2 separate regions of the Homo sapiens genome follow, and region 2 is linked to region 1. Evidence: fine-mapped expression QTL. A gene starts in region 1. The other region holds a variant in brackets. All regions are shown on one strand. Distances are from middle to middle. Region 1 holds the start of NIPSNAP1 (nipsnap homolog 1). Region 2 has its middle 5.2 kb from the start of RFPL1.

Region 1 (2,500 bases):
TTGTTTGTTTTTTGAGACGGAGTTTCGCTCTTGTTGCCCAGGCTGGAGTGCAGTGGCGCGATCTCGGCTCACTGCAACCTCTGCCTCCAGGGTTCAAGAGATTCTCCTGCCTCAGCCTCCCGAGTAACTGGGATTACAGGTGCCCGCCACCATGCCTGGCTAATTTTTTTGTATTTTTAGTAGAGACGGGGTTTCACCCTGTTGGCCAGGCTGGTCTTGAACTCTTGACCTAAACTTCTGATCCACCTTTGCCTCCCAAAATGCTGGGATTACAGGCATGAGCCACCATGCCCGGCAGCAAATTTATAGTTCAACTTTGAAACAAAGATAACAGCCCTCTCCCAAAATAAACCCCTTTCTTGCCTGGGGACCAGACTGCTTTTGTAAGACTAACAAATTAGCCACGAGATTAGAAATTACGGTTTAGGAGTCATGCAGGTAGTGGCCACAGATTCTAAACCTCCCCAGTTGCTCCTAGGGATAACATCACTACTGTAAAACCTAAGATTGGTGCTCAAGATATTTTTCCGATCCTGCACTCAATGGATCCGCTGGCGATACACAGATTAAGAAACCGGATCATCCGGTTTTGTGGCCCCCACCCAGAGATCCACTCAGCACAAGAGGACGGCTTCCACTCCCTATGATTGCATCTCCGACCTGACCAATCAGCACTCTCCACTCTCTGGCCCCTACCCACCAAATTATCCTTAATAAAACCCAGTCTCCGAATTTTCAGGGAGACTGATTTGAGTAATAATAAAACTCCGGTCTCCCATTCAGCCGGCTCTGCATGAATTAAACTCTTATTGCAATTCCTCTGTCTTGATAAATCCGCTGTCTGGGAAACGGGCAAAATGAACCCATGGGGTGGTTACACTGACCCTCTGCTGCACATCCCGGACAGCCTTGTTAAGAACCCTTGGTAGGCTGGGCATGGTGGCTCACGCCTGTAATCCCAGCACTTTGGGAGCACGAGGCAGGCAGATCACGAGGTCAGGAGATCGAGACCATCCTGGCTAACACGGTGAAACCCCGTTTCTACTAAAAATACAAAAAATTAGCTGGGCGTGGTGGCAGACGCCTGTAGTTCCAGCTACTCGGGAGGCTGAGGCAGGAGAATGGCGTGAACCCAGGAGGCGGAGCTTGCAGTGGGCCGAGATCGCGCCACTGCGCTCCAGCCTGGGCGACAGAGCGAGACTCCGTCTCAAAAAAAAAAAAAAAAAAAAAAAGAACCCTTGGTATTATTGTTCCACGCTCCCATTTTACCGAGGTGGATCCTGAGGCCCAGAGTGGGCAAAGGGCTTGCCAAGGTCGCAGAGCGCGCAGAGGATTAGAACCCTGACTTCCGTCCAGCACCTGCGGAGTTGGAGACGCCCACAGGAAACGCCCACCTGACCGGGTGAGTGAGGGGGCGGGCGAGCCGGAGGGGTGGAGTTTATTCGCGCCCCGCCTCCGCCACCAGGGCTTGGGGGCGGGGCCTTCCTGCAACCTTTGCGGCTCCAACATGGCTCCGCGGCTGTGCAGCATCTCTGTGACGGCGCGGCGGCTGCTGGGGGGCCCGGGGCCTCGCGCTGGGGACGTTGCGTCTGCAGCTGCGGCGCGGTGAGAGCCCGGCCAGGCAGGGATAGACGCGCGCGGGGTGGGGTGCAGGCGCGGGGGCCAGGGACTGGGTCGTGGGGGAGGGGCTGAGACTCCTCGCTTGGAATCTGGGGGTTAGAGGCGGGGCAGGATCAAGGCCTAGGGAGGGGTCTGGGCAAAGAATGGGGGAGGTGAGAAAGGGATGGGTAGGGTCTTTGTCCTGGTTGGGACCGGGCTGTGATGGGGACCTGATGAAAGATGGTGAGAAGGGCAGGTACTGGGCCCTGGAGAGTGGGAGAGGGCAGAAGACAGGAGGAGTGGCCCATTCCCAGGCGTAGCTTGTGATTTAACACCCACTGGGGGCTTCTGGTAGTCAGCTCCTCCGTCGGGAAGTTCTGTGGGAAAGAGATGATGGCAGGGGAGCAGTGGGGGATCCCCAGGGGCCATGGCTGCACAGACCCTTTGTTCCTCCACCTCGAACTGTACAGGTGGGGAAACGGACCTGAGAGGGAATGGGAGTTGTCCAAGGTCACCCTCCCTGCTGTGCCGTGGCAGCACCAGGTCTGGGACCCAGGCCTGCCAATGCGCCATGCACTTTGCACCCAACTGGTGGCCTCCTGGGAGTGGGAGTCTGGCTGGGCCATGTGCTCTCAGCCTGGGCTTTTGTTTGGGCCCTGCTCTGGGCTGAGCTAGGGCTTGGCCTCCCTGACTGGCCCTGGGCAGCCCCTCACTCCTTGGTCCCCACAGCCCTGTACTTCCCCCATCTCTGCATATATGACCCTGCACAGTTATGACTTGGTGCTTGTCTGTCTCTCTCACTAGACCATGATCTCATTTTTCTCTGTTTCCCCAGCCTCCCACCCTCAGAGGGCTCAGGACTGTGTATGGTCAAGGAATATTTACCAAAGAAGTGAGGCCA
Region 2 (3,022 bases), 150 kb after region 1:
GCTCTGCAGCAGAAATCTTAGTGAATGTAAAGATATGAGTCCCATCATTAATGTTATAAAAGGAAATCATTGTCATACCCATATCCAGGAAAATGCCTACCCTGCATAGCCCCGGACTCACCCAGAGGGTGGTTAAAGGCACAGTGCTGGCTGCAAAGAGCTTTTCTTTCCTCATACCCACAGTCCAGAAGCCAAGTTCTGAAGACCACACAATTCTCTTGTCGATTAACAGATTCTTTGCAGGCACCCAAATCCCATTATTTGCCTGTCCCCATGTCTACCTCCCAGTAATGGTGTCCAGAGGTGAAGCGAGGGGAGCCCAGGACACAGATGACTTGTTTGAATCTCGGCATACTCTGTGCGGTTCTAAGAAATCCACAATGGACACTCCACAGGTCTTCAGAAATGATGAGTCGATTGTTGGCTGTGTCAATATCTGACGTCATATCCACTGTGGAAAGAAAAAAGGTAAATCAGCAAATAGAAACTTCCCTGCATTCCCTGATTCCGTAGAATTTCTTAGAGAAGATTGAAATAGAATTGTAACAAATCCCTCTTGTTCATAGTAAGCATTCTTTTTACATTTTGATTATTCAAGATTTCTTGAGATCCATGAAGGCAGAAACCATGTCTGTTGTTTACTCTCAAAATCATAAAATTTAGCAGACTCTGTTCAAATATAGATATCTAATGAATATCTAGATGATGGAAAAACTATTTATTATACTATTAGATCAGGCTGTGTACGGCGGCTTATGTCAGTAATACCAGCAATTTGGGAGATTGAGGTGGGAGGATCGCTTGAGCTGAGGAATTTGAGACCAATCTGGGCAACATGAAACCACATCTCAAAAAAATTTGTGTGTATGTGTGTGTGTGTGTGTGTGAGTGTGTGTCAGAAATCCAGATTCTCAACCAGCCTAGTCCAATAGAAGGAGAATTTGCATTTTATAAAAGATCTCCAGGTAATTTTAAATTTTTCTGTAGACATTAAAAAAAATTCAACAATACTTTAAATAACATATTATAAGCTTGTATATCCAGAATTATTGTCACTTCCACATGGGGTACACCCATGTTTCAAGGGCCCCATAGCCACTGGTGGCTACCATATTGGGCAGCACAGGTCTAGGGTATGACTTAAATGTTATATTTTCTTCAAAATCTTCTGTTGTCTCTAATCTATACTCACAGCTGAGAACTGTTGTTGGGTGGGCATACACATTTTAGGTGCCAGAATTCAGCTAATGCCCCTATTTAATGGA[G/C]AGCCTTTTGAACAGTTGCTTTTTCCAAGGCTGTTGGTGGGCCGAGCGCAGGTTATACAGATTTCTGACCTTGAAACTTCCGCATCCTTGGGTTTTAATATAGAATTCTTCTCAGCTGGGGCTCCACTTCCTTGATTTTGGAAACCAGTTTTCCCAGCAGGAGATGGGGCGTGATGTCTTTTATAGTGACCACAGAGCAGATGGCGCACAATACATCATCCCCATTGGGCTCCTTTGGAAATGAACTGATACAGCGGAAGCAGCAGAGATATCCACACTCTAGGTATGTGGGTTTTTATTATTTTCTTTTTTCTTTTCCTTTTTTTTTTTTTTGAGACGGAGTCTTGCTCTGCTGCCCAGGCTGGAGTGCTGTGGTGCCATCTTGGCTCACTGCAGCCTTTGCCCCTGGGTTCAAGTGATTCTCCTGCCTCAGCCTCATGAGTAGCTGGGATTACAGGCACTGCCACAGCACCCGGCTAATTTTTGTATTTTTAGAAGAGACGGGGTTTCACCATCTTGGCCATGCTGGTCTTTAACTCCTGACCTCGAGATCCACCCACCTCAGACTCCCAAAGTGCTGGGATTACAGGCGTGAGCCAATGTGCCTGGCTAGTAAGTGGGTTTTTCAGGATAAGATAGGCAGCCGACACATCGACTTGCTTCTTTAAAATGTTCTGCCATGGCCAATGTCTGCAGAAACGGTACATGATATTGGAGTTCAATTAACTGAATGACAATACTCCTTTAGGCTCTTTCACTTTTACATGCATAGAGACATATCAGTGCCTGCTATAAACAATCACTAGTGATAGGTGATAAAAACACTATAAAATACATATAAGAAGAGTCATGGCCTTGAACTTCTAATATCGGAAATGCTAGTTGGAATGAAGGACATGATTCTTCAGTTGAGAAGCTGGTGTTGTGAAGGGTCTAGGCCCAGCGGTCCAGCCACATGTGGTTCTTGAGCACCCCAAATGGGGCTTATTGGAATTGGGATGTGCCTTTGTTGTAACCAAGCGAGTTATAGAGAAACGCCACACTTTGAGACTAATTCAGGAGTCCTTTATTAGCCGGCGACCGAGAGACGCTAACGCTCGGAATTCTCTCGGCCCTGAAGAAGGGGCTAGATTTTCTTTTATACTTTGGTTTAGAAAGGGGAGGGGGAATTGAGCTGAAGCAATCTTACAGAAGTAAAACAGGCAAAAAAGTTGAAAAGACAAATGGTTACAGGAAAACAAACAGTTCCAGGTGCAGGGGCTTTAAATTCATCACAGGGTGATAGGAGGGGGGCTCCAGACACAAATGCAGGGGGCTTTAGAGTACTGTCACCTGAGCAAATTCCTGGGAACTGTGGACATAGTTTGCCACAGTATCTTATCAGTTAATTGCACTCTTTGACGCGCTGAGAGTCAGCTTGCACAAGTTAAGTCCTTGAGGGAGGGAGTGGGTAAGGAGCCCTTAATGTCTTGCAAATGAAGGAGCCGAATGGAATCCATCCAGCTTTCTTAGCTAAGAGAGAGTCAATCAAGTTAATGTAAGTTAGCGTATCACACCTTCAGTGTAAAATGCGCACTGGATTTTGAAGAGGTATGAGAAAAAGAGAATGTAAGTTATCTTATTAAGAACTTTGGCCAGGTGTGGTGGTTCATGCCTGTAATCCCAGCACTTTGGGAGGCCGAGGTGGGTAGATCACGAGGTCAGGAGTTCAAGACCAGCCTGACCAACATGGTGAAACCCCATCTCTACTAAAAATA

Evidence for each region. PIP is the estimated chance that this variant, and not a neighbour inherited with it, causes the effect.
Region 2: its variant is fine-mapped to the expression of NIPSNAP1 in whole blood (TOPMed, PIP above 0.99).

What each region holds. Positions count from the first base shown.
Region 1 is chr22:29,580,090-29,582,589 of GRCh38, reverse strand. It overlaps NIPSNAP1 (nipsnap homolog 1), which reads left to right and starts at 1,477. Exons shown (of 10, transcript NM_003634.4): 1 at 1,477-1,605. The coding sequence starts at 1,508. RefSeq lists a silencer at 1,671-1,720 and an enhancer at 1,704-2,316.
Region 2 is chr22:29,431,867-29,434,888 of GRCh38, reverse strand. It overlaps a transcript of RFPL1 not described here and the pseudogene RFPL4AP6. Among named protein-coding and RNA genes, the nearest start is that of RFPL1, 5.2 kb to the left of the region's middle. The variant G/C (reference allele first, on the strand shown) is at 1,266.